2 separate regions of the Homo sapiens genome follow, and region 2 is linked to region 1. The links come from fine-mapping of genetic effects on gene expression. A gene starts in region 1. The other region holds a variant in brackets. All regions are shown on one strand. Distances are between the middles of the regions.

Evidence for each region. PIP is the estimated chance that this variant, and not a neighbour inherited with it, causes the effect.
Region 2: its variant is fine-mapped to the expression of GANC in whole blood (TOPMed, PIP 0.96).

Annotation. Positions count from the first base shown.
Region 1 is chr15:42,261,825-42,277,334 of GRCh38, forward strand. It overlaps GANC (glucosidase alpha, neutral C), which reads left to right and starts at 11,377. Exons shown (of 24, transcript NM_198141.3): 1 at 11,377-12,686; 2 at 14,524-14,586. The coding sequence starts at 12,658. It overlaps TMEM87A (transmembrane protein 87A), which reads right to left and starts at 11,609. Exons shown (of 20, transcript NM_015497.5): 1 at 11,431-11,609; 2 at 10,239-10,299; 3 at 6,123-6,208; 4 at 2,266-2,379. The coding sequence starts at 11,574. RefSeq lists enhancers at 10,959-11,208, 11,369-11,598, 11,571-12,770.
Region 2 is chr15:42,394,905-42,403,927 of GRCh38, forward strand. It overlaps CAPN3 (calpain 3), which reads left to right. Exons shown (of 24, transcript NM_000070.3): 9 at 1,896-1,973; 10 at 4,588-4,748; 11 at 6,737-6,906; 12 at 7,220-7,231; 13 at 7,890-8,098; 14 at 8,837-8,873. Among named protein-coding and RNA genes, the nearest start is that of CAPN3, 40 kb to the left of the region's middle. RefSeq lists enhancers at 6,280-6,359, 6,730-6,779. The variant C/G (reference allele first, on the strand shown) is at 4,562.

The sequences.
Region 1 (15,510 bases):
AGGGTTTCACCGTGTTAGCCAGGATGGTCTCAATCTCCTGACCTCATGATCCGCCCACATCGGCCTCCCGAAGTGCTGGGACTACAGGCGTGAGCCACCGCGCCCGGCCTAAACCTAATATTCTTGATGCTTAGGTCTGCTGTCCCTTCCACCATACTACATTTTTTATGCCTGTAAAAAACTACACTAATTATCTTTCTTACCAGTTATCAGTAGATGAGGCATTGTCCTTCCTGAGTAATGAGACTGTGTAATTCAACCCTGTTACATTAGACTGGAGGAGGAGAGGAAACCTTACCAATAAGCCAAGACCCTGGAAAGATTACAGCACATCTAAAAGTAGTCAGCCTCCAGCAACCAGATGCATCAGGTAGCTTTCCATAATCAAATCCAAGAAAAGACCAACCAATCCTCCTAGTCTAAGGGATAAATTTGGAAAACCAACAGAAAACATACAAACTACACAACATCACATTGCTTCTAGCTTTCTCTACCATTCTTTCACCATCTTAAAGCTATTTTCTTTTCCCTCCAAGACCATAAAATCTAAGTTATAATAAAAGCGGAACTCTTCCTTCAATTACCAATTAATTCATCTGCTCATCAATTATCCCTTTTTTTTTTTTTTTTTTGAGACCAAGTTTCACTCTTGTCGCCCAGGCTGGAGTGCACTGACACTATCTCAGCCTCCTGGGTTCAAGTGATTCTCCCACTTCAGCCTCCCGAGTAGCTGGGATTACAGGTACCCGCCACCATGCCCGGCTAATTTTTTTGTAGAGACAGGGTTTCACCATGTTGGCCAGGCTGGTCTTGAACTCCTGACCTCAGGTGATCCGCCCACCTCGGCCTCCCAAAGTGCTGGGATTACAGGCCTGAGCCACCGCATCTGGCCTCAATTACCAATGACTAAATTTGTCTTCTTAATAATAAACTTTACTTCTAGTAATTTGACAGTTCAAGGCAAGTTGCTAAATATTCCAAAATAATTTTTAAATATAGTAAGGACAAGTATAGATGATAATTACTATAACTATTTTCAACACATATAAAATTTTTCTATCAAAAAACTGAGATTACTATTTCTAAGACAACAAAATTTGATATCAGAATCTCCACTTACATGATTGCATATGTGTAAGCACGAAAAATGTATGATTATTCACATCTCCCTCTTTCTACAAAATTAAGGTGTGAAATTGAACTCTAAGACAATGATGATACCCTTCTGATTTCAGATCTATAGAAGTAAATTTTAAAAACCCTGATTTTTCTGGGAACATATTAATTAGATGAGGAGACCAAAGAATTAAAAATGTGACGTTTTAAATGTCCATCAACAGATGAATGGAAAAACAAAATGTGGTACATACATACAATAGAACATCACTTAGCCTTAAAAAGGAATGAAATTCTGATAACGCTATAACATGGATGAACCTTAAAAACATTATGCTAAGTGGAAGAAGTCAGACAAAAAAGAACAAAAGTTGTATGATTCTATTTATATGAGGTATCTAGAATAGTCAAATTCATGGAAAGTAGAAGAGTGGTTACCATGGTCTTGGGGTTGGAAGGTGGGGAATTTTTGTTTAATAGGTATGATGTTTCAGTTTGGGATGATAAAAGTACTAGAGATGGGGCTCAGCCCGGTGGCTCACACCTGTAATCCCAGCATTTTGGGAGGCCAAGGTGGGTGGATCACTTCAGGTCAAGAGTTCAAGACCAGCCTGGCTAACATGGTGAAATCCTGTCTCTACAGAAAATACAAAAAAAATTAGCCAGGCGTAATGGTGTGAATCTGTAGCCCTAGCCACTTGGGAGGCTGAGGTGAAAGAATTGCTTAGATCCGGGTGATGGAGACTGCAGTGAGCCGAGATTGTGCCACTGCACTCCAGCCTGGCGGACAGAGCAAGAATCTGCCTTGGGGAAAAAAAAAGTACTGGAGATGGGTCGATGGCTGCACAGCAATGTGAATATATTTAATGCCACTGTATTATACACTTAGAAATGGTTAAAATGGTAAATTTTATGTAGTGTATATTTTACCACAATAAAAAAATGGGGGTTTGCTTTTTACACACAAAGCAAAGTACAACCTCTCTTTGATGAGTATGTATAAGTGGCTGACTATGTACCTATCAGAACATGCTTCCACTTACTTCTGCCAAAAGAAATACTTGAGAAGTCGGAAGTGGATACAGCCAAAAATATATACATTCCAATTTTTGCCTATTCTATTTATCTCCAATCACTTTCAAAGATTACCTGTGTTTTAAAGAGTTCACTGCAGTTCTGGAACAATTTTGATGATGTTTGATATTTCCCAGACAAGCCTCTTTTTTCCTTAAGTTTTTCCAAATACAACTCTACTTCTTCTGCCTGGAAAAAGAGATAATACAGAGTAGTTAACTCACCTTCCAAAAAATAAGATACTAAGAGCACAGCACAACAAACAGTTCACCTGCAGTACAGATACAATTTTGAGTTTGCTATTTTAAAAATGAACAGCATCAGATAAAGGCTCTATATAAAAATATCTAAGAATCAAACACTATCAGACTCAAGGACTATTAGACTCTAGTCTTTGGCTCACAAGGCATAGTTCTACTAACAATTCTGAGTAGACTGGGAAACTGCCAGAGTGTAGAGGGTTTTGTCACATTAAAATATACTTAAAAGATTTACTTGACCAAATTAACAACATCAACAAAAAAATATTCATGCTCATAAGCTAAGATAGAGCAGAAAATTGTTGCAAGCACAGAACTAGGATAATCTTCTTAAAAATGCAAATTGAGAGATAGAAACAGAATGGAAAAGGTCTGAAAAATTCAACTCAGAACTATATATATGTGTGTGTATATATATATATATATTTTTTTTTTAACTTTTATTTTAGGTTCCGGTATACATACGCAACTTTGTTATATAGGTAAACTGAACTCACAGGGAACTGTTTTACAGATTATTTCATCACCCAGGTACTGCCTAGTACTCAAGAGTTATTTTTTCTGATCCTCTCCCTCCTCCCACCCTCCACCCTCAAGTAGGCCCAGTGTCTGCCGTTCCCCTCTTTGTGATCATGTGTTCTCATCATTCAGCTCCCACTTATAAGTGAAAACGTGGTATTTCGCTTTCTGTTCCTGTGTTAGTTTGCTAAGGTTAATGGCCTCCAGCTCCTTCTGTGTTCTTGCAAAGGAAATGATCTCATTCTTTTTTATGGTTGCATATGTATCACATTCTTTTTTATGGCCGCATATGTACCACATTTATCCAGTTTACCATTGATGGGCATTTAGGTTGATTCCATGTCTTTGCTATTGTAAACAGTGCTGCAGTGAACATATATGTGCATATGTCTTTACGGTAGAATGATTTATATTACTTTGGATATATACCCAGTAATGGGATTGCTGGGTCAAATGGTAATTCTGTTTTTAGCTCTTTGAGGAATTGCCACAGTGCTTTCCACAGTGGTTGAACTAATTTACACTCCCACTAACAATGTATAAGCATTCCCTTTTCTCCACAACCTTGCCAGCATCTATTATCCTTTGACTTTCTCATAATAGCCATTCTGATGTGAGATGGTATCTCATTGTGGTTTTGATTTGCATTTCTCTAATAATCAACGATACTGAGCTTTTTTTTTTTCATATGCTTGTTGGCTGTATATCTTCTTTTGAAAAGTGTCTGTTCATGTCCTTTACCCACTTTTCTATGGGGTTGTTTTTTGCATATAAATTTGTTTAAGTTCCTTATAGAGGCTGGATATTAGACCTTTGTTGGATGCATAGTTTGCAAATATTTTCTCCCATTCTGTAGGCTGTCTACTCTATTGATAGTTTCTTTTGCTGTGCAGAAGCTCTTAAACTTAATTAGATCCCATTTGTCAATTTTTGCTTTTGTTGCAATTGCTTTTGGCGCAATTGCTTTTGGCATCTTCATCATGAAATCTTTGCCACTTCCCATGTCCAGAATGGTATTGCCTAGGTTGTCTTCCAGGGTTTTTATAGTTTTGGGTTTTACATTTAAGTCTTTAATCTATCTTGAGTTGATTTTTGAATATGGTGTGAGGAAGGGGTCCAGTTTCAATCTGCATATGGCCAGCACGCTACCGCAACACTATCTACTAAATAGGGAGTCCTTTCCCCATTGCTTGTTTTTTGTCAGCTTTGTTAAATATCAGATGGTTGTAGGTGTGCGGCCTTATTTCTGGGCTGTCTTCTCTGTTTCATTGGTCTTTGTGTCTGTTTTGGTTACTGTAGCCCTGTAGTACAGTTTGAAGTCAGGTAATGTGATGCTTCCAGCTTTATTCTTTGAGCAATATATTTTCAACGCTCAAGTATTCTAGATTATGGCAATTCTCAAAAGTGTGGCCGTTGAACCATAGACAAAACTATTTTCATGGCTGGGCACAATGGCTCACGCCTGTAATCCCAGCACTTTGGGAGACTGAGGCAGGTGGATCACCTGAGGTCAGGAGTTTGAGACCAGCCTGGCCAACATGGCAAAACCCCATCTTTACTAAAAATACAAAAATTAGCCGGGTGTGGTGGCAGACACCTGTAATCCCAGCTACTTGGGAGGCTGAGGCTGGACAATCACTTGAACCCAGGAGGCAGAGGTTGTGGTGAGCTGAGATCGCGCCACTGCACTCCAGCCTGGGTGACAGAGTGAGACTCCATCTCAAAAAAAAAAAAACTATTTTCATAATAATAATAGTATGCTATTTGACTTGTAACGATATTACAAAAGCAATAGTGGGTAAAACTGTTGCCCCTTATCAGGAACTAAGGCAGTGGCATTTAATTCTACTAGCAGTCATATTCTTCATAGTCACAAACTGGCAGTTTTTAAAAATGCCACTTTTATGTAAGAATATCCTAGATAAAGCAGTAAAAATTATTAATGTTATTAAATCTGGACCTTTTGAGTACCTGACTTTTTAAATAATCTAGGTGACAAAATGGAAAGCATGCAAAATACAATAAATTATTGTCTTGAGATAAAGCACTCTGCAATTGCTTTGACTTGTGAGTTAAACTAATCATTTTTTCCACGAAACACCATATTTACTTGAAAGAATGACTGAAAAACTACCATTACTCAGACTTGGTTATTTGAGAGTTATTTCTCTGGAAATGGGCAACAGAGGCTGTCCCCTCAAGGAAGACAACTGACAGTATTCACTGCCAAAATAAAATTTGAGATTTCAAGCAAAAACTGGAATTTTGAAGAACTTGTATCTGCTACACTGAATTTAACGGCTTCCAAAACTTAAGAACCTACTGATGAGATGAAGAGGGCAGGGTATAGTTATAAACAATGTAATTTTTAGCTAAGTGTGAAATGAGTTAATATTTATAAAAATGTATATAATTCAGTCAACTGCTATTTTCTAAATGACCAATAAATGATGCTACAAGATCACACACAGGTAAAAGATACATTCATATCAGTGGATTTCTTATCAGAGTACAAAAAAAGTTCATTAATATTTCAGATTCCACATTGCAACTAACCTTTAAAAACTTCCACTTGTTGAGTTTTGGTATAGAATCAAAAAAGAATATCCTCAGTTATCTGAAAAGGCCATTAAAATACCATTCCTTTTCCCAACTATATATCTGTATGAGGTCATTATTTTCTACATGTACTTAAGCCAAATTATTGCAACAGACTGAGTGAAGGAGGGAATATAAGAATACAGTGATCTTCTGTTATGCCAGATAGTAAACAAATTTACAAAAATACAAAACAATCCTACTCTTCTGTGTGGTTTTCTGGGAAAAACAGTTATTTATATTAACATGCAATAAGTTTATTATTGCTACTTTAAAATAAACTAATAAATATTTTTATATTTTCTCAGTTGTAATTTCTAATAGCATAACCCACATGCTCAAAGGCTTTCTGGAGTCCACAATAATTTTTACAAATATAAGAGTTCTGAAACCAAAAAGTTTGAGAATTGGTGGTCTGCAAATTGGGAAGCATGCATTCTAGTTTCAGCTCTCCTCCTCCATAGCTACATGATACTCTTTCCTCTATGAAATTAAGAGACTGGAACCAGATAATCACTAAGGTCCAAAAAAACTCTGTAATTTTATGTTCCTTACCTTGAAGTTATAGATTTCATTGTAACAATCAGCGCTTTTCAGATACCAGGTTATATTCAAAGACAGGTCACAAGGTTCTCCATCAACTACAAAAGAAGAAATCTTTGTTAACAAAAGATAATTCCCCAACAAAGCATTTTTCCTAAGCTGTTAACCTATATCCTATTCATTTCGTACCCTAAACTGAGATACTCAAAGACCATCCTTTCTCCAAACATAAGGTATTGAAATAATACATGCAAAAAGAGCTGGATATTAAGATAAAAGTATTGTTGTTCATAGAAAAATAGCAGGTAAGCAGTTTTTAACCTCTGGAAACTGTGGATCTATTTTTATGCCATAAAGTCCTAACTTCTGGATCTCTATTGAGAAAAACCTGGGAGTGATAAAGCACTCTAAATTCAAGCCAGTCTTCTATTATTTAAGTATTTATTGAGCAGGCTAGGTGCGGTAGCTCACACCTATAACCCCAGAAGTTTGGGAGGCCAAGGCAGGGGGATCGCTTGAGCCCAGGAGCTCAAGACCACCCTAGGCAACATAGTGAGAACTCATCTCTACAAAAAATGATTAAAAAGCTAGGCGTGGTGGTACATGCTTGTAGTCCCAGCTACTCAGGCAAGGGAGGCAGGAGGATCACTTGAGCCCAGGAGGTCAAGTCTGCAGTGAGCCATGATGGTACCACTGCACTCCAGCCTGGGCGACAGAGCGAGACCCTGTCTCAAAAAACATAAATAAATAAATAAATAAATAAATAGCACAAGTATTACAAAGGTATAATGGCACACTGTTAGGCTAAAGAGGGAAACGAGTGGAAACAAATTATTAAGACCCTTCAAAAGGCTAGTTGAAGAGACAAGCAATAATAAAATTAGGAATGCATGTCACAAGGCAATATTAACAACTGTTAAATGGTGTTAAATGATGATATACATAATAGTTCCACTGAGAGCAAAATTGCTATCTCAGACCTTGAAAGATATCAAGATAGAACAGAAAGAGCAATGAACGAAAAGCAAACATGGCTGTGGAAGGTAGAAATAGCAAAAGCAAAGATAAGAGTATCAGATTTTTTTTTTCAAAGCCTACCTTAAAAGAGGCCTCAAGGAAGCTCATGTTATCATGGAAGCTTCATAAAGCTCATTAAACACAGTTTGGAACACAGTATTCTAATGGATCAAGACATTATTCTGAAGACTTGGGAGGGTAAATCTGACTATATGACTGATTAGCTGGAGGAAGTCAGTATTCGCTTTTATCTTTGATTCTAGCTATGAAAGGAAAAATATACTAAAGACTCCCTACTTTATATAAATGTAATAATAAACATGACAAAAATAAACATGACTGCATTTAGGAATCTACTTTTCATTCATAACAAAAGAAGCAACCTAATTATAAGCTTCCTTTTTTTTTCTTTTAAACTGTTTTCTCAAACTAATTTTTAGATGACCAACACATTTTCAAAGGACTCTATTAGAATGTTCAAAAATTTGACCTGTTGGATAGAATTTATGGAAATGATAAAAAGCAATTGGGCTATGAACTATTCAAAATAATCCATACAGGGACAGGATTAACTAATAAAAAGCCAGTAAGAACACATCCCCCAAACAGGAGACTTGTAAGGAAATTTGGCAGCAAAAATACTGCTGTTTATGTTACAAGACAATATTTAGAACTTTAAATGAAAGGCTTTAAGAGACAATAAGGTCGGGCGCGGTGGCTCACGCCTGTAATCCCAGCACTTTGGGAGGCCGAGGCGGGTGGATCATGAGGTCAGGAGATCGAGACCATCCTGGCTAACAAGGTGAAACCCCGTCTCTACTAAAAATACAAAAAATTAGCCGGGCGCGGTGGCGGGCGCCTGTAGTCCCAGCTACTCGGGAGGCTGAGGCAGGAGAATGGCGTGAACCTGGGAAGCGGAGCTTGCAGTGAGCCGAGATTGCGCCACTGCAATCCGCAGTCCGGCCTGGGCGACAGAGCGAGACTCCGTCTCAAAAAAAAAAAAAAAAAAAAAAATGGTCCCAGCTATTCCATGGAAAGCTATATACCATCCCCCAAAAAGTACAAAATCAAAGACAACTGGTAAATATGAGAAAGCACAGAAATAACAAAGAAAAAGATAATGTTAAAGTGTCTCAGGCCGGGCACGGTGGCTCACACCTGTAATCCCAGAACTGTGGGAGGCCAAGGCAGGCAGATAACTTGAGGTCGGGAGTTCGAGACCAGCCTGGCCAATATGGTGAAACCCCCACCTCTGCTAAAAATACAAAAATTAGCCGGCGTGGTGGCACGCGCCTATAGTCCCAGCTACTCGGGAGGCTGAGGCAGAAGAATCGCTTGAACCCAGGAAGCAGAGGTTACAGTGAGCCGAGATCGTGCCACTGCATTCCAGCCTGGGCGTCACAGCAAAACTCCGTCTCAAAAAACAACAACAAAAAATAAAGTGCCTCAAATCCTCCAAAAACAATGAAATATAAACACTTCAAAATACGCAGTTAGGGCTGGGCATAGAGACTCATGCCTGTAATCCCAGCTACTCGGGAGGCTGAGGCAGGAGAATCGCTTGAACCTGGGAGGTGGAGGTTGCAGTAAGCCAAGATCGTACCACTGCACTCCAGTCTGGGTGACAGAGTGAGACACCATCTTAAAAAAAATGCAGTTGGTTTAACTTGGCAAAACACCACTAGATCAAACTACACGAGAAAAAAAGACTGGACCTAATAAAAGAATAAAACAGCAAACAGGCTGTCAAGCTATTCCAAAAGACAAGGGTTACTAGGTTACCCAGTAAACCAATCTCACAAGGCCAGTGTCAGAGTAGATTTGATCTAAATCAAATATAAGTCACTGGTCAGGAGACTGATTACATATTCATGGATACAGTATATATTCTTCAGAGAAATTCTACCTGCTGTTTTCACTCCCACTAGAATGTAAGCTCGATGAGGGAAGAACATTTTTCTATTACTTCCCCACAGTCTATGCAATAAGTAATAATTACTCACTAAACAATTGAAAAGAATAAAATTATCCAACTATGACTTAAAATTTTGCACTTCCGTGAAGACAGTATGCATAGAATCACACATCTATCATCAGGATTTTTATCCCTCATCTAGAAATAAAGCTGCCCACGATCAATCGTTCTCTAAATTAAAGCCGGTTTCAGAACTAAAAGGAAGCTTTTACTGAACACACAATGGGATACTTTAGATTCAGATACAGTCATTTTTCCACTAGACAAACTAGTTTTGTTCTACATAATCCCTATTTCTTGATAATATCTGAGCTTCCTCTTCCAAAGCAGTAAAATACTCCTTTTGTAAATAAAGGATCTACTAAATATATTCCTTCACAGCCAACGGCCTGACAAACCTAGGTCATGTTTGCAGTAAACATTTAACAAGCACACAAGAGTAAAACCTCTTTAATCTACACAGAACAGATTAAAACCACCATGCAGGGAATCAACCCCAACATAATCACAGTCATTCACTACATAACATTTCAGTAAATGAAAGACTACATATACAACGGGGGTCCCATAAAATTGTAATATCGTATTTGTACTCTACTTTCCTATGTTTAGATATACAAAAACTTACCATTGTGTTACAACCACCTATAGCATTCAGTACAGTAACATGTTATACAGGTTTATAGCCTAGGAGCAATAGGCTGTACCATACAAACTAGGCGTGTAGTGCCATCCAGTTTTAAGTATACTCTATGATGTTTGCATAATGACAAAATCACCTAAGGATGCTTTTCTCAGAAAGTATCAACTGTAAATGTAATTCGACTGAGATGTGACTGAATATTCAATGTAGTATATACAGCATATATATTAATATATACATTATATATACTAATATATAATGTCTACATAGTGTATATATGCAATGTAAACACCAGAAAAACAAGAGAAGAAAATAAAGTTCACACGAGTACTTTGAAGATGATTCAGTAAAAGGACCTTAGTAATACTAAAAATATTTATACCTAGATAATGCCAGACTATTAGATTTCAGAACTTATAAAATAGGTAATTTAAAACATTACCTATAAATTTTTAAAATTCAAATTAAAACTTCATGAAATTCAAAAACTCACACTTCAGGAAGATAGTGGTATTTCTGAAGAGGATCTTTCCAAAACTAAAATAATTTTTCCCCTGCAAACATAAAGGAAAGATAATTAGCCTCAGATGGCTTCAATTACCAAAGCATCATATAACTATCTAAGACTGCTAGAAATTCCAACTTAACTTAAATCTTTATGGGACGTACCCCTTAATCAGTTCATTCCCTTTACTCACCAATCACTGCTCAGAATAACCAATCATTTTTTCTAATGAACTATTCTGTGTGCAAATAACCAGAGTTTTATTTTCAAATCTAAAAAGACTTAACTATTAACCATTTTAGTAACAAGTAAAAACCTAACTGAACACCTGAAAATCTTCACCACTGAACAAAAGGTATAACGTTTACCATAATAAAAGCCCAAATAAGATTTGGACATTACAGTCAGTGAGCAGAGCAGAATGAAACAAAAAGGCCAACGTAGGTTTAATGGGGCTAATGCTTTTCAGCATTTCCTCCCTGCATCTGGTTTTTGTCTGCTCACAGGACTATACCTGTTACTGAAATAAGGTTTAAAATGGGTAAGGGGCAGAAAGGGTCAACCCATGTAGTTAATTATCCAAATGAAAGACTAGCCTTACCACATTAAATTTTAAGTACTATTTCTTCAATTTTAACCATTCCCATGTTAAAACACATTTCTTAAATCTCTATGCTTTCTAGTCACACAGTAAAGCTTAGAATAGCCATTCCAAAGTTGAAGCGAAGTCGAACCATCTCGTAAGCAGAATTACCCAGGGACCAAGAAGTGCAGAGGAAGAAAAAGAAAGAAAGAAATGAAGACTCCTATTTACATATCTTTCTTATCCAACCCGGGGACACTGGATTCTGTGAAACATCTGAAAGATAAACAACTCTCCGTTTGTACATCAAGTTTACATCTCAAGTCAGGCACTGAAAGTTCTGTTTTTCTGATGAGAAGCCGCTCCACCACTCCTTTCTGTTGCTGAAGTGGCCCTTACATTCCCGCTAGCCTAATCACAGAAGTGCGCGGCTTTCCACTCCAGGGAGGTGGGTCCCAGTTGGCTAGCCACACAGACCATCCCAGCAACCCCACCCCTTTTGAAGAGACTTTTGCGGAACCTTCATGGACCCCTTGGGCCGCCGTAGCCCCACCCCTTGCTCCTCTAGGTTCAGACGTTAGTGAAGTGAATACTCACCGACGGTATCGGAATGTGCCATTTGGACCGGTCGGCAGCAGCTACGGTTGCCGGTCCCGCACTGAAAAACGACAGTGGTGACGGGTGAGCTCCCAGAAGCAGAAGAATGACAGGCAACACCTGAAGCCACGCAGCCGCCGCCATCTTCACAGCCGTGGAGTGCCTACCGAAAGCATTTCACCCTCTTCCGGTTCGTCCCGCCTTCTTCCGGCTCTGCTCTAAGGGCGGGATTATCCGGGTCCTGGAAACGTCGCGGAGCTTGTTTGCTGTGCGGCGTAGCGGCCCCTCTCTCAGACAGTCGTCTGTGCGCCGTGAGACTTTGGACCTACTGCGCAGGCGTCATCCTGTTGGAACCTGGTCAGCTGGGTTAGAGAGATCGCTACATGCCAGCCTGGCCTGAGTCTTTTCTGTCTCCCAGCCGTTAAAGGTTTTAGGACCAGGCAGGCACCCCGTGCAGGATTTGGCTCTCTACTTCCGCTCGCCCCAGCCCTTCATCCCTTCTAAGTCAATGTCAGACTTTGGGGCCAGAAAGTCTGGAAAAGCCCTAAGCCTGGCTGCCCAAGTGGCGTCTAGTAGTGAGTTCTCCGGTTTGGGTGGTATTTAAGCAAAGGCTGGAATTCGGCGGTGGTGGAGTACACGCGATTCCTAGACTGGGTAGTGTAACAACCTTCAAAGGCCCCTTCTAGCCCTGAAGAGTACGATGCTGCAGTACAATCTGGCTGGAGACCTAGCCTCCAGCAAAGACCCGGCCGGCACTTCCCACCCTTAACCGAAAACGGAGACAGAGAGGGTCAGTTTTCAAAATCTGTGGCGTGACCCCGCCACTGAGATAGATCTGCAGATGCTTCGTCCCAGTCAGGGAGGCCGTCTCGGCATTTCCAGGTTCTTAACGCTCTTGATTTTTACCCTCTAGGACTCATTGCGTACACGCCCTCACCGCCGCCCAGTTTCGGTTCCTAACAAAAGCACGTTCCTCATCAGCCACCCATAATCAAGACAAATTTGCCAAATAAATCATTGTAGAAACGCTAGTTTGGGCCTGAAAAATTCCAGGAGCAAGAGTCAAGATTTGTCACTCCATGAGAATCTGGAGGGGACTCCCTTCCCAGAAACTTGACGATGAAGTACTGGTTGTAATTTTAGAAAGACACCCAATCGGCTTTTTTAAAAGATCGCCCAGGGCCCTTGTCCTGAGAGCTGGGAGCTGGTCGGAGTGACAGAGAAGCCATGGAAGCAGCAGTGAAAGAGGAAATAAGGTAAAGGCCAAGTGCTTCTGTAGCGAGTGACCCCAGGGTCCCTAGAAACAGGGAATAGTGTTTTAATTGCATTTCTTATTTGCGTATTTGGTATTTGCTGACCTTTATCTTTTCTCTCAATTCGCGGGAAGTTAGTTGATATTAATAGCCTCTCATAAAATACTTTCAGGATGGTTAAATAGGCCGGGTGCAGTGGCTCACGCAGGTAATCCCACAGCACTTTGGGAGGCTAAGGTGGGAGGATCGCTTGAGTTCAGGAGTTCGAGACCCCCTCCCCGCCCCCTCGGAGTCCCAGCTACTTGGGAGACCACTGGGAGGATGGATTTGGAGGCTGCAGTGGAGCTGTGATCTTGCCACTGCTTGGGCAACAAAGTGAGACCCTGTCTCCAAAAAAAAAGGATGGTTAAATAACATTAACAGTGGAAAAGTTGCAATCAGAACTCTTAACACGTGAATTTCAGGCATGTTGCTTTCCAAATTCATCTATAATCACCCCTTCCTATATCATCCCAGAGTTAATTCTTCGAAGCTGTAAAGAGGAAACAAAAGATTCTCCAATCTTTGTACACTTGATTAAAATAAACTGGGCCGGTTCGCTCATGCCTGTAATCCCAGCACTTTGGGAGGCCTATAGGTGGGCAGATTGCTTGAACCCAGGAGTTCAGACCAGCCTGGGCAACATGCTGAATCCCTGTCTCTACAAAAATTTTAAAGTTAGCCAGACGTGGTGATGTGGGCCTGTAGTCCCAGCTACTCAGGAGGCTGAGGCAGGAAGATAGCCTGAGCCCAGGAGGCGGCAGTTGCAGCAAGCCAAGATCGTGCCACTTCACTCCAACGTAGGAGGCAGAGCGAGATCCTGTCTCAAAAAAAATTTTTTTAATAAATTAAAATAAACGGACAAAGACTGAGTTCAGTGAAGGACAAACAGTTTTTTAGTATGGCCAAGTATATCTGCCTGGGCTTGTTTTCATAATATTTCGACGTTTGTGTTCAGTCATAGCTTTCTACATAATCATGGACATGCTGACTACAGATGCATTCGGCCACACTAGTGCATGAAAGCCGGTGTAATTTTTTTTTCTCCTTATAATCTGTAGTTGTTTTAATCAGATGGAGGCTAGTTTAAATACATATACTCAAACTTCAATATACATATATCTCATTCATGTTTTATCCCAGAAACAGCTCTTCTGGAAACTTGGTTTTAAAAAACATGGCCCCTAGTTTGTCACCTCATCTTAAAAAGCAAGAAATTCCCCTTCTACGTCTGTTCTGTTCTTATTCTAGCACCTTGCACCTCTATTAAAGCATTTGTCAGCTTGTATTGTGATTGCTGGTAAAACCCTAACTGATAGCTTGAACACAGTTCATATCTTCCTCAGAGCCCAGCTCTCAGGAAGAATATTCTGAAAATATTTTCTTGAATAAATCGGTGGGTGGGTTATGGTTCTTAGTTTGTCTGGTTGGTTGGTTTTGGTTTGTTCGTTTTGGGATGCTGTTTTGGTTTTCCTCCTTCAGATTTTACTTTTGTGGTCATAGCCTTCAGTCATTATTTCAAAAGAATATGTCCTCATAAGTGACAGTGATCTTTTCCCATTACTTTTGGAGTAATCCCAGAACCTGATGTTTTGTTGTTTACCTCAGAGGGTTTACAAAAGGCTATTGTTCTGCAACATAATGTGCTATTATGTTATACTGTGGCCGTGACACAATTTTGCATTGCAGAATAGACTCCAAAGGTTTATTTTGCATGTTCATACTGTCGTTAGAGAAGGTACAAAAGTTGGATTCACAAGCCCTGTGTGAAATAAATTTCTCAAAATGTCTTTTTATTTAGTCTTGAAGATGAAGCTGTAGATAAAAACATTTTCAGAGACTGTAACAAGATCGCATTTTACAGGTAAGGAAAATAAATATAGTAGCTAGATCAAAACATCTCTGACAGTATTTCAAAATTGATGCTTATTAAATTTTTGGAACTGATAGACTTTCCAAGGAAAGGATAATTTAATAATTAAGGAAATCATCAGACAGGAGACTCACTTTTAACTTTATACATTTACTCCTGAAGTATTTAAATTTTTCAATAAACAGCTATTTTATTTTAAAAGCCAAAATATTTTTAAACTAGTTTTAAATTTTGACGCTTTGAATAGATAACACTTTTACATGGTTCAAAAATAATATAAAGAGCTATACATTGAAAAATGTTGCTTCCACTCCTGTCCCCTTCTACCCATTCCTCATCTTGTCCCGAATAACCGAATTTCTTCATTTCTTATTTATCCTTCCAGTATTTTTTTGTAAATACATGTATTTTTATATTATTGCTTTTCTCTTTTTTTAATCACCCCTTTTTATACCAAATAGGTTTTTTTTCCTGCTTTATAGTTTGTTCTGAGGAGAAATTCATATGAGTGCATGGAGATTGTTTCTCCTTTTTACAGCTGCATAATATTCCATGGGGTAGATATACTATTAATATAATTTATTCAGTCTGTCTCTTATTGCTAGACCCTTGGGTTGTTTTTAATCTTTTGCTAAAATAGCACTACCACAATGAAGAGCTATACATAGGTCATTTTCTACACATGCAGGTGTATTTATAGGATACCTTTCTAGGAGTGAGATTACTGGGTCAAAGAGTAAATGCATTTGAAATGTGTTAACTATTACCAGATTTCCCTCCATAGGAATTATACCATTTGTACTCCTATCAACATTATATAAGATTGCCTGGCTGGGCGAGGTGGCTCACACCTGTAATCCCAGCACTTCGGGAGGCCAAGGCAGGCGGATCACCTGAGGTTGGGAGTTTGAGACC
Region 2 (9,023 bases), 130 kb after region 1:
CACATTTGCAAAACCTCCATGGTCCTACTGGTTCCTGATTACCTCCACTGAATGAGAGGCAATTCATTACTGAATGAGCCATAAGCGCCTCTTATTTCGAGAGGGGGATGGCAGGACTCAGTAGAGGAGAAGGACCGCACCCAGGCAGCCTGGGCCCCTCGGCTCCTGTACTTATATACTGCTGGGTACTTCTTAGCCCAGCATGTAATTACTGGTTCGTTCAGTCATTCGTTTAGCAAATGTTTCTTGGGCACCTACTACATAGGAGGCACAGGTCAAGGCACTGGGGATATTCTGTGAACCCATAGCCTCCCTTGATACACTGTGATTAGGGGCTGATCCTCATGTCCTGACTGCCTCCTGCAGACATTCTCATGCCTTCCTTCACCTATGCACGCTACACCTATCCTTACTTCCTCAGTGCTGACTTCTGCCAGGCCCTAGGCTACCCACCTGGGGATGTAGAAATGTAGAAATGAACACAGACACGTGGGCCCTGTGCCTGTGGGTTTAAGGTCCGGGGAAGGACAGGCAAGCACACACTAATAATTGAGATGAGTGCCACAGTAAGGATCACAAAGAGGGGGCCTCTGCACCTAGTTTGGGTGGGAGGGGAGGCGTAGAGAAAGGTTACCTGGAGGGAGTGACATTGGAACTGTGCTCTGTGCTCTGGGAAGGCCCTCAGTGACTCCTCAGTTGTCTACTTCACTGGCCCAAGTCACCTGCAGGGACGCTTGCTGTGTTCTCCAGCCTCAGAGCTTGGTGTGCAGCCCTGCCCTGCTTACCATGATGCTGCCATCACAGGGGCTGGAGACAAGTGGACCCAACGCTGTTCACTCAAGGAGATTCCCTTTGCTGCATCCCTCCTCCTGGTCTCAGGAATCTCCATGTCCCCTGCAGTGTTCTCTGACTGACTCCAAGCGCTTCCTCCACCCCTTACCTTTCCAGGGAGCACCCAGTTTAGTTGAATTCTCCTCTGTGAGCCTGAAACACACATGCACTTTATTGCCACCATAGTGAGGAGAGAGAGTGTGAAAACTGCCCAGCCTTTAGAAGCACAATGCTTGATTATTTCCCAGCACAGGAAAGGAGATGTTTACAGACTTGGCCTTTTTCCTTAGTAAATCAGAGTTTCTTATTATATGACAGACACTATGCTAACAGCTTTGCATGCATTATTGCATCTGCCCATCCCAGCCCTGTGAACAGGTGACATAATCATTTTCCTTTTGCAATTGAGGAAGCAGAGTCTGACAGAGGTTAAGTGACCTGCCCAAGGTTGCATAGCTAGCCCTATTATTAAACGGAACTCCCAGTTTGTCTATGTCCAGAACCCATTTTTTTTTTTTTTTTTTTGAGACGGAGTCTCACTCTGCCACCCAGGCTGGAGTGCAATGGCGCGATCTTGGCTCACTGCAACCTCCGCCTCCCGGGTTCAAGTGATTCTTCTGCCTTAGCCTCCTGAGTAGCTGAGACTATAGGTGCCCGCCACCACGCCCAGCTAATTTTTGTATTTTTATTAGGACGGGGTTTCACCATATTGGCCAGGCTGGTCTCGAAATCCTGACCTTGTGATCCGCCCACCTCGGCCTCCCAAAGTGCTGGGATTACAGGTGTGAGCCATTGCGAGCAGCCCAGAACTCAATTCTTAACCTTTAAAGTATGATGAAAAGAAGGATCAAGCCCTCACCAGCCCATTTAAGGAGTTTAGGCTCAGTCTTGAGGATGTGAGAAGTCATTGCTATTGGGTTTCACACTGAGGTTAACAGGTGAAGTCAGCATTTTGGTAGTTCACAGCAGCTGCAACTCTTTGTATTTCTCTGATACCTCCTGTCCCAACCTACATCAGGCCTTCCCTTCTTCCTGCTTCCTTAATTCCTCCATTTTCCCACCAGATGGAAGGACTGGAGCTTTGTGGACAAAGATGAGAAGGCCCGTCTGCAGCACCAGGTCACTGAGGATGGAGAGTTCTGGTGAGTCCAGAACCCAGGAAGACCCAGAAGGGTAAGGGTGGGGAAGAGAGGGGAAATCTCAGACCTCAGTCCCCAGCTAAGGTTATCAGATTCCAGCCCTTGGGAGATCTGGGCTGTGTTCTCCTCCAGCCCAAGGCCCAGCAAGGATGAGGTTCTGAGAGGAGCCTTCCAGGCCACAGGGACAACTGAGCCCAGGACCAGGCCAACATGACATGGCTCTTGCCTCCTGTGTGCCCCTCCGCCACACACTCTATTCCAGCCACAGGCACCCTGGCCTTAGCACAATTCTTTTCTGAGCCTAGGAAGCTCCACTTACCCTGATCTTCCAACGTCAACCTCACCCTCTCTCAGGTTGTTTCTATTCAGGCTTCAAGTCTCAGCTTAAGGAGAATTTTCAAGTCTCAGCTTAAGGAGAGCCCCCTAAGTTCCCCGAGGACTGGGATTAATTTATGATGCTCATCACCCTTAAAATTGTTTGCTTAAGCCGGGCGCGGTGGCTCACGCCTGTAATCCCAGCACTTTGGGAGGCCGAGGTGAACGGATCACGAGGTCAGGAGATCGAGAACATCTTGGCTAACACGGTGAAACCCTGTCTGTACTAAAAATACACAAAAAAAGTAGCCGGGCGTGGCAGCGTGCGCCTGTAGTCCTAGCTGCTGGGGAGGCTGAGGCAGGAGAATCACTTGAACCTGGGAGGCAGAGGTTACAGTGAGCCCAGATTGCGCCACTGCACTCCAGCCTGGGCGACAAGAGAGACTCTGTCTTGGAAAAAAAAAAAAAAATGTTGTCTTAGTATAATGTCAAGGGAAAGGTTTTTTGTGTTTTTATTACTTTATTTTTTATTTAAAAACTATAATAGAGACGGGCCTCGCTATATTTCTCGGGCTGGTCTCAAACTCCTGGGCTCAAGCGGTCCTCCCACCTTGGCCTCCCAAAATGCTGGCATGTGGGCCTGGTCAACATATGGGACCCCAACTCTACAAAAAATTTTAAAATTAGCCAGATGTGGTGGCGTGTGCCTGTAGTCCCAGCTACTTGGGAGGCTGAAGCAGGGGGTCACTTGAGCCCAGGAGGTTGAGGCTGCAGTGAACTATGATTGTACCACTGCAGTCCATCCTGGGCAACAGAGCAAGACACTGTCTTAAAAAAAAAGTGCTGGGATTACAGATGTAAGCCACCACACCTGGCCTTCTATTTTTTATGGATATATCATAGCTATATATATTTTTGGGGTACATATGTACCCATATTTTGGGGGTACATATGTACCCATATTTTGGGGGTACATATGATATTTTGATACACATATACAATGTGTAATGATCAAATTAGGGTAATTGAGATACCATCATCTCAAATATGTATCTTTTCTTTGTGTTGGGAACATTACAATTCTTTTCCTCTAGTTATTTTGAAAGATATATAGGCTGGGCGTGGTGGCTTATGCCTGTAATCCCAGCACCTTGGGAGGCTGAGGCGGGCAGATCACTTGAGGTCAGAAGTTCAAGACTAGCCTGGTCAACATGGTGAAACCCCATCTCTACAAAAATACAAAAATTAGCCAGGTGTGGTGGTGTGCACCTGTAATCCCAGCTGCTCAGCTGGCTGAGGCAGGAGAATCCCTTGACCTCAGGAGGTGGAGGTTGCAGTGAGCCAAGATCATGCCACTGCACTCTAGCCTGGGCAACAGAGCGAGACTCTGTCTCAAAAAATACACACACACACACACACACACACACACACACACACACACACACATATATATACACACATATATATACACACACATATACACACACACACGTCTGTATATATATGTGTGTGTGTATATATACACACACACACTATACTATAAATTCTTGTTTAGCTATGTTTGTCTTACTGTGCTATTGAGCATTAGAGCTTTTTTTTTTTTTTTTTTTTTTGAGACAGAGTCTCACTTTGTCGCCCAGGCTGGCATACAATGGCGCAATATCGGCTCACTGCAACCTCCGCCTCCTGGGTTCAAGTGATTCTCCTGCCTCAGCCTCCCAAGTAACTAGGATTACAAGTGCCCGCCATAATGCTCAGCTAATTTTTGTATTTTCAGTAGAGATGGGGTTTCACCATGTTGGCCAAGCTGGTCTCAAACTCCTAGCCTCAGGTGATCCACCTGCCTCAGCCTCCCAAAGTGCTGGGATTACAGGCATGAGCCACAGCACCCTGGTGAGCACTAGAGCTTATTTCTTCTATCTAACTGTATTTTTGTATCCATTAGCCACCCTCTTTTCATCCTCCCCTCTCCTTCCCTTCCCAGCCTCTGGTAACCACTGTCTGCTCTCTACTTCCATGACATATGCTTTGTTTTAGCTCTCACATATGAGTGAGAGCATGCGACATTTATCTTTCTGGCCCTGGCACATTTTTGAATCATTGTTAGAAAAGATGATGGTTTGGAGTAGATACATCAGAAGTGACAGCGTTTGCCCTAAAAAGGAAAGACAGGCTCCTCTGGGACCCTGACCAAGTTCCTGTGAACTATTTTATTATTGTGCTGTGTTAGTCCTGGGGTCTTCCGTTCCCAGCCCTCCTCACCTGCTCCCATATGG[C/G]TCTCTCTCTTCTTCCAACCTCTCAGGATGTCCTATGAGGATTTCATCTACCATTTCACAAAGTTGGAGATCTGCAACCTCACGGCCGATGCTCTGCAGTCTGACAAGCTTCAGACCTGGACAGTGTCTGTGAACGAGGGCCGCTGGGTACGGGGTTGCTCTGCCGGAGGCTGCCGCAACTTCCCAGGTGGGAGATGCTCTTGATGGGGGGAGGGTCTAAGCCGAAAAAGTTCCAGGCAGAAGAAGCCTAACTAGTGCTTATTAAGTCTCTCTGTTCCAGACGTCCACTATCTTATTAAACCTTCCCTGTTTTACTGAGAAGGAAACCACCATGCTGAGAAGTTTGCAATAGGGAGCTGGTAGCAACTTTGAAGCAGGAAACTGTGGGAACAATGCAGATGCTGCTTGACTTACGATGAGGTTATGTCCAGATAAGCCCATCCATCTTTGAAAATACCCTAAGTGAAAAGTGCATTCAATATGCCTAACCCACCAAACATCATAGCTTAGCCTGGCCTACCTTAAACATGCTCGGAACACTGACCTTAGCCTAAAGTTGGGCAAAATCATCTAACTCAAAGCCTATTTTACAAGAAAGTGTTGAATATCTCATGTAACTTACTTAATACTGTACTAAAAGTGAAAAACAGAATGGTTGTACGGGTACTCGAAATCCAGTTTCTACTGAATGTGCATCTCTTTCACATTGTAAAGTTAAAAAATTGTAGCCGAACCATCCTAAGTCAGGGACTGTGAGTACTGTGTCAGTAACAGTAAGGGCACTATTGGAGAACCAAGTTAGCAGCTGCTGCAATAGTTCAAGTCAGAGATGATGAAAACCTAGACCAAGTCAGTAGCAGCAGAGATGGAGGGGAGACAGCAGATTTAGGGAGAGCATATTGGGTGATGTAGGGAAGGAAGAAGAATGATGTCAAGATTCCCAGTTGGGGACCTGACAACATTGCAACATAAGACACACAAGAAGATCGGGTGGGTGGCTCATGCCTATAATCCCAGCACTTTGGGAGGCAGAGCCAGGAGGATCACTTGAGCCCAGGAGTTCAAGACCAGCACAGGCAACATAGTGACACCTCATCGTTACAAAAAATAAAAAAAAAAATGAGGTGGGAGGATTGCTTGAGCTCGGGAGGTTGAGGCTACAATAAACTGTGATCATGCCACTGCACTCCTGCCTGGGTGACAGAGTGAGACCCTGCCTCAAAAAAAAAAGACACACAAGAGAAAAATATCAGCGTGTTGTTTGTTTTTGGTGGAGTTAATTGTGGGGTTCTAGGGAAAGGAATTTAGCTTGGGACATGGAAAGTTTGAGGTTCCTGTAGAGTGTCCCAGTGAAGATTTGTAATAGAGCATCGGATGCGCATATTAGATGGCACTTGGTGATATGATAAGAACTCAAAAAATATTTGAGGAATAAAGGAAAGAAGAGGCCAGACGTGGTGGCTTATGCCTGTAATCCCAGCACTTTGGGAGGCTGAGGCAGGCGGATCACTTGTGGTCAGGAGTTCGAGACCAGCTTGGCTAACATGGTGAAAACCCATCTCTACTAAAGATACAAAAATTAACCGGGGATGATGGTGGGTGCCTGTAATCCCAGCTACTTGGGAGGCTCAGTCAGAAGAATCGCTTGAACCCAGGAGGCGGAGGCTGCAGTGAGCCGAGATCGCGCCACTGCACTCTAGCCTGGGCAACAGAGCCAGACTCCGTCTCAAAAAAAAAAAAGTGAGAGAGATTGAGGCTGGGATATATGGCTCAGGCATCATGCGCGTGTAGGGGGCAGTTAAAAAGCAGAAGTAAGAAAGATTGCCTAGGGAGGCAGGAAGGGTGAGGTGAGAGGAGAAGAGGCCCAGGACCAGATTCTAGTCACCAACAGCGTTTAAGGGGCAGGTAAGGAAAACAAAACCATCAGCAAAGACTGAGAATGAAAGCCCAGAGAGGAAGGAAAAGCCACACATACAATCAGTACAGCTCCATCTGAATAAAGGTAGCGCCCCCCCCCCCCCCAAATCATTAGAGAAATGCCTGAATCGTGTTTTCTGTTGATATTTCCTAAGCACCTAGATGTAGGGAATAGAAATAAATGGCTCCCTCTGTCTCATCCCCTTCCTGCCCTCTGAGAGGCAGCTGTGAATGCGTGCTTCCTTTCTGGGGGTGCAGATACTTTCTGGACCAACCCTCAGTACCGTCTGAAGCTCCTGGAGGAGGACGATGACCCTGATGACTCGGAGGTGATTTGCAGCTTCCTGGTGGCCCTGATGCAGAAGAACCGGCGGAAGGACCGGAAGCTAGGGGCCAGTCTCTTCACCATTGGCTTCGCCATCTACGAGGTGTGCAGTCCTGATTGGCTCCAGCCCAGGAAACATACTTTCCCAGGGAGGACGCTTCCAGGGGCTTCTAGAGGGGCCCTCTGGCTTCCTCAATACCCAGTGACCCACAGAGCTCCTGGTATCAGGACCACTTGTGTTTGTAACAAGCAAAAAATACCAGGGGGGGCATTAGAGAGGCAGTGGAGCGGGCCTGGCAGAACAGGTGCCTGGGGGTCAGGCTTCCGCATGCGGGCTGCAGTTGCTGGCATTGCCTTCCGCAGGCTCCTCATCCTCATTCACATCTGAAGCATCTTCCTTTCTGTTTCTTCTCAAGGTTCCCAAAGAGGTATAGCAGCAGCAGCGGCCAGCAGTTGTGTGCAGCACTACCCAGGGGGCCCCGAGTCTGTCTGTGGCTCGTCGAGAAGCTTCCTGGTGGGGTTTGTGGGCAGGACTGTGATAGGAGAGGGCCTTGCCTGTGTTATTTCCACTGCAGAGCAGGTGCCTCAGGGCATTGCATGACCCATGACTACCACCCCCAGGATGTGCACTTTCTCCCTCGCACCAGACACTGCACGTCACACACATGCCTTTGCACACTCACCCTCCTCCACGCTTACAGCCACACACACAGTCACACAGACGCGTTCTGAGGGTGGCTGCCCGCTTGGGATGGAGGAATCACTTCCCTCAGAACCCAGCCAAGTCCTCTAGGCCTCCTTGGGGGTCCTTCCAGCCTGAGGGGCTTCGGAGCTGAGGAGCAGCTGTTCTGGTAAGTGTCCCTGAGTGTGGGGATGACACATTTGCCATTCACTCTGAATCACAACAGAAAAGGAAGAGGAAGTGAGGTAGGGAGGCTATTTAAGCCTTGGGAGTCGGAAGTAGGGAGGTTGAAACTGTGACATGGGTGACCAGGGAGTTGGGAAGGGACCCTTGGAGGTGGCTGTGGCAGGACAGGATGTTCCTCCCGAGGGGCTCATGTGCCCTGGGCTCTCCCCATCTCTCAGATGCACGGGAACAAGCAGCACCTGCAGAAGGACTTCTTCCTGTACAACGCCTCCAAGGCCAGGAGCAAAACCTACATCAACATGCGGGAGGTGTCCCAGCGCTTCCGCCTGCCTCCCAGCGAGTACGTCATCGTGCCCTCCACCTACGAGCCCCACCAGGAGGGGGAATTCATCCTCCGGGTCTTCTCTGAAAAGAGGAACCTCTCTGAGTGAGTGCTGGCCCAGCTTTCCCACGTGTTTCTAAAAGCTCACATGGCCCACTCCAGAGGTTGAAGGCATGAGGCAGCTAGACACGTCTCCTCCAGGGTCCTTCTGCTGCTCCTGAGCCACTGGCCACATTACCCCCATTCATTCATTCATCCATTCTGTGATATTTATTGAGCACCTACTATGTTCCAGGCACTGTCCTAGGCACTAAGGATAGAGTAGTGAAGTAAACAGAAAGAAATCCCTGCCTTCATGGAGCTTAATATTCTAACATGAGACAATAATGGATAGGAAAAACATATGTAGCATGTTAGATTTGGAGAGGTGATATGGAGCAAAAATAAAGTAGGGAAGAGGGATAGGAGGTGTTGGGGATGCTTGAAATTTTAGGTTAGCATGGCCAGGAAAGCCACATCCTGTCCCTGGCCACCACAGATGAGCTCATAGCCCCTGCCACTCTGATCTCTGTCCTTGGAAGATGCACCAGGTCCATGGGTAGGTGGCTGGGTCATGCCTTTGGGGGGCTCTGAGCAATACTAACAAGAACCTGCGTGCCTGGGCTTGGCTGTCGGGGATGGTGCTGACATGGGGCTGGTTCCTGGGGTTGGGGTGTTCCAGGGGTTCTCTAGAGGCTGGTTCTGGCTTGGCTGCCAGGAAGCCGTGCACCAGAGCAAACCGTCCACGGGCCTCCTGCTTGCTTCTGGTGACACTGAGACCCCACATGTCTGTATTCCTCACAGGGAAGTTGAAAATACCATCTCCGTGGATCGGCCAGTGGTGAGTGGTTTAGATCTTCTGTGCGAAAAGTCCAGAGGGTCCCCTTCCCTGACCATGCAGGGGACAGATGGTGCAGGGGAGAATGGGCACTGGCAGAGGGAATGGGAGTCTGGGCTGTGCTGAGCAGTCCCTCCTTGGCACTGCAAATCC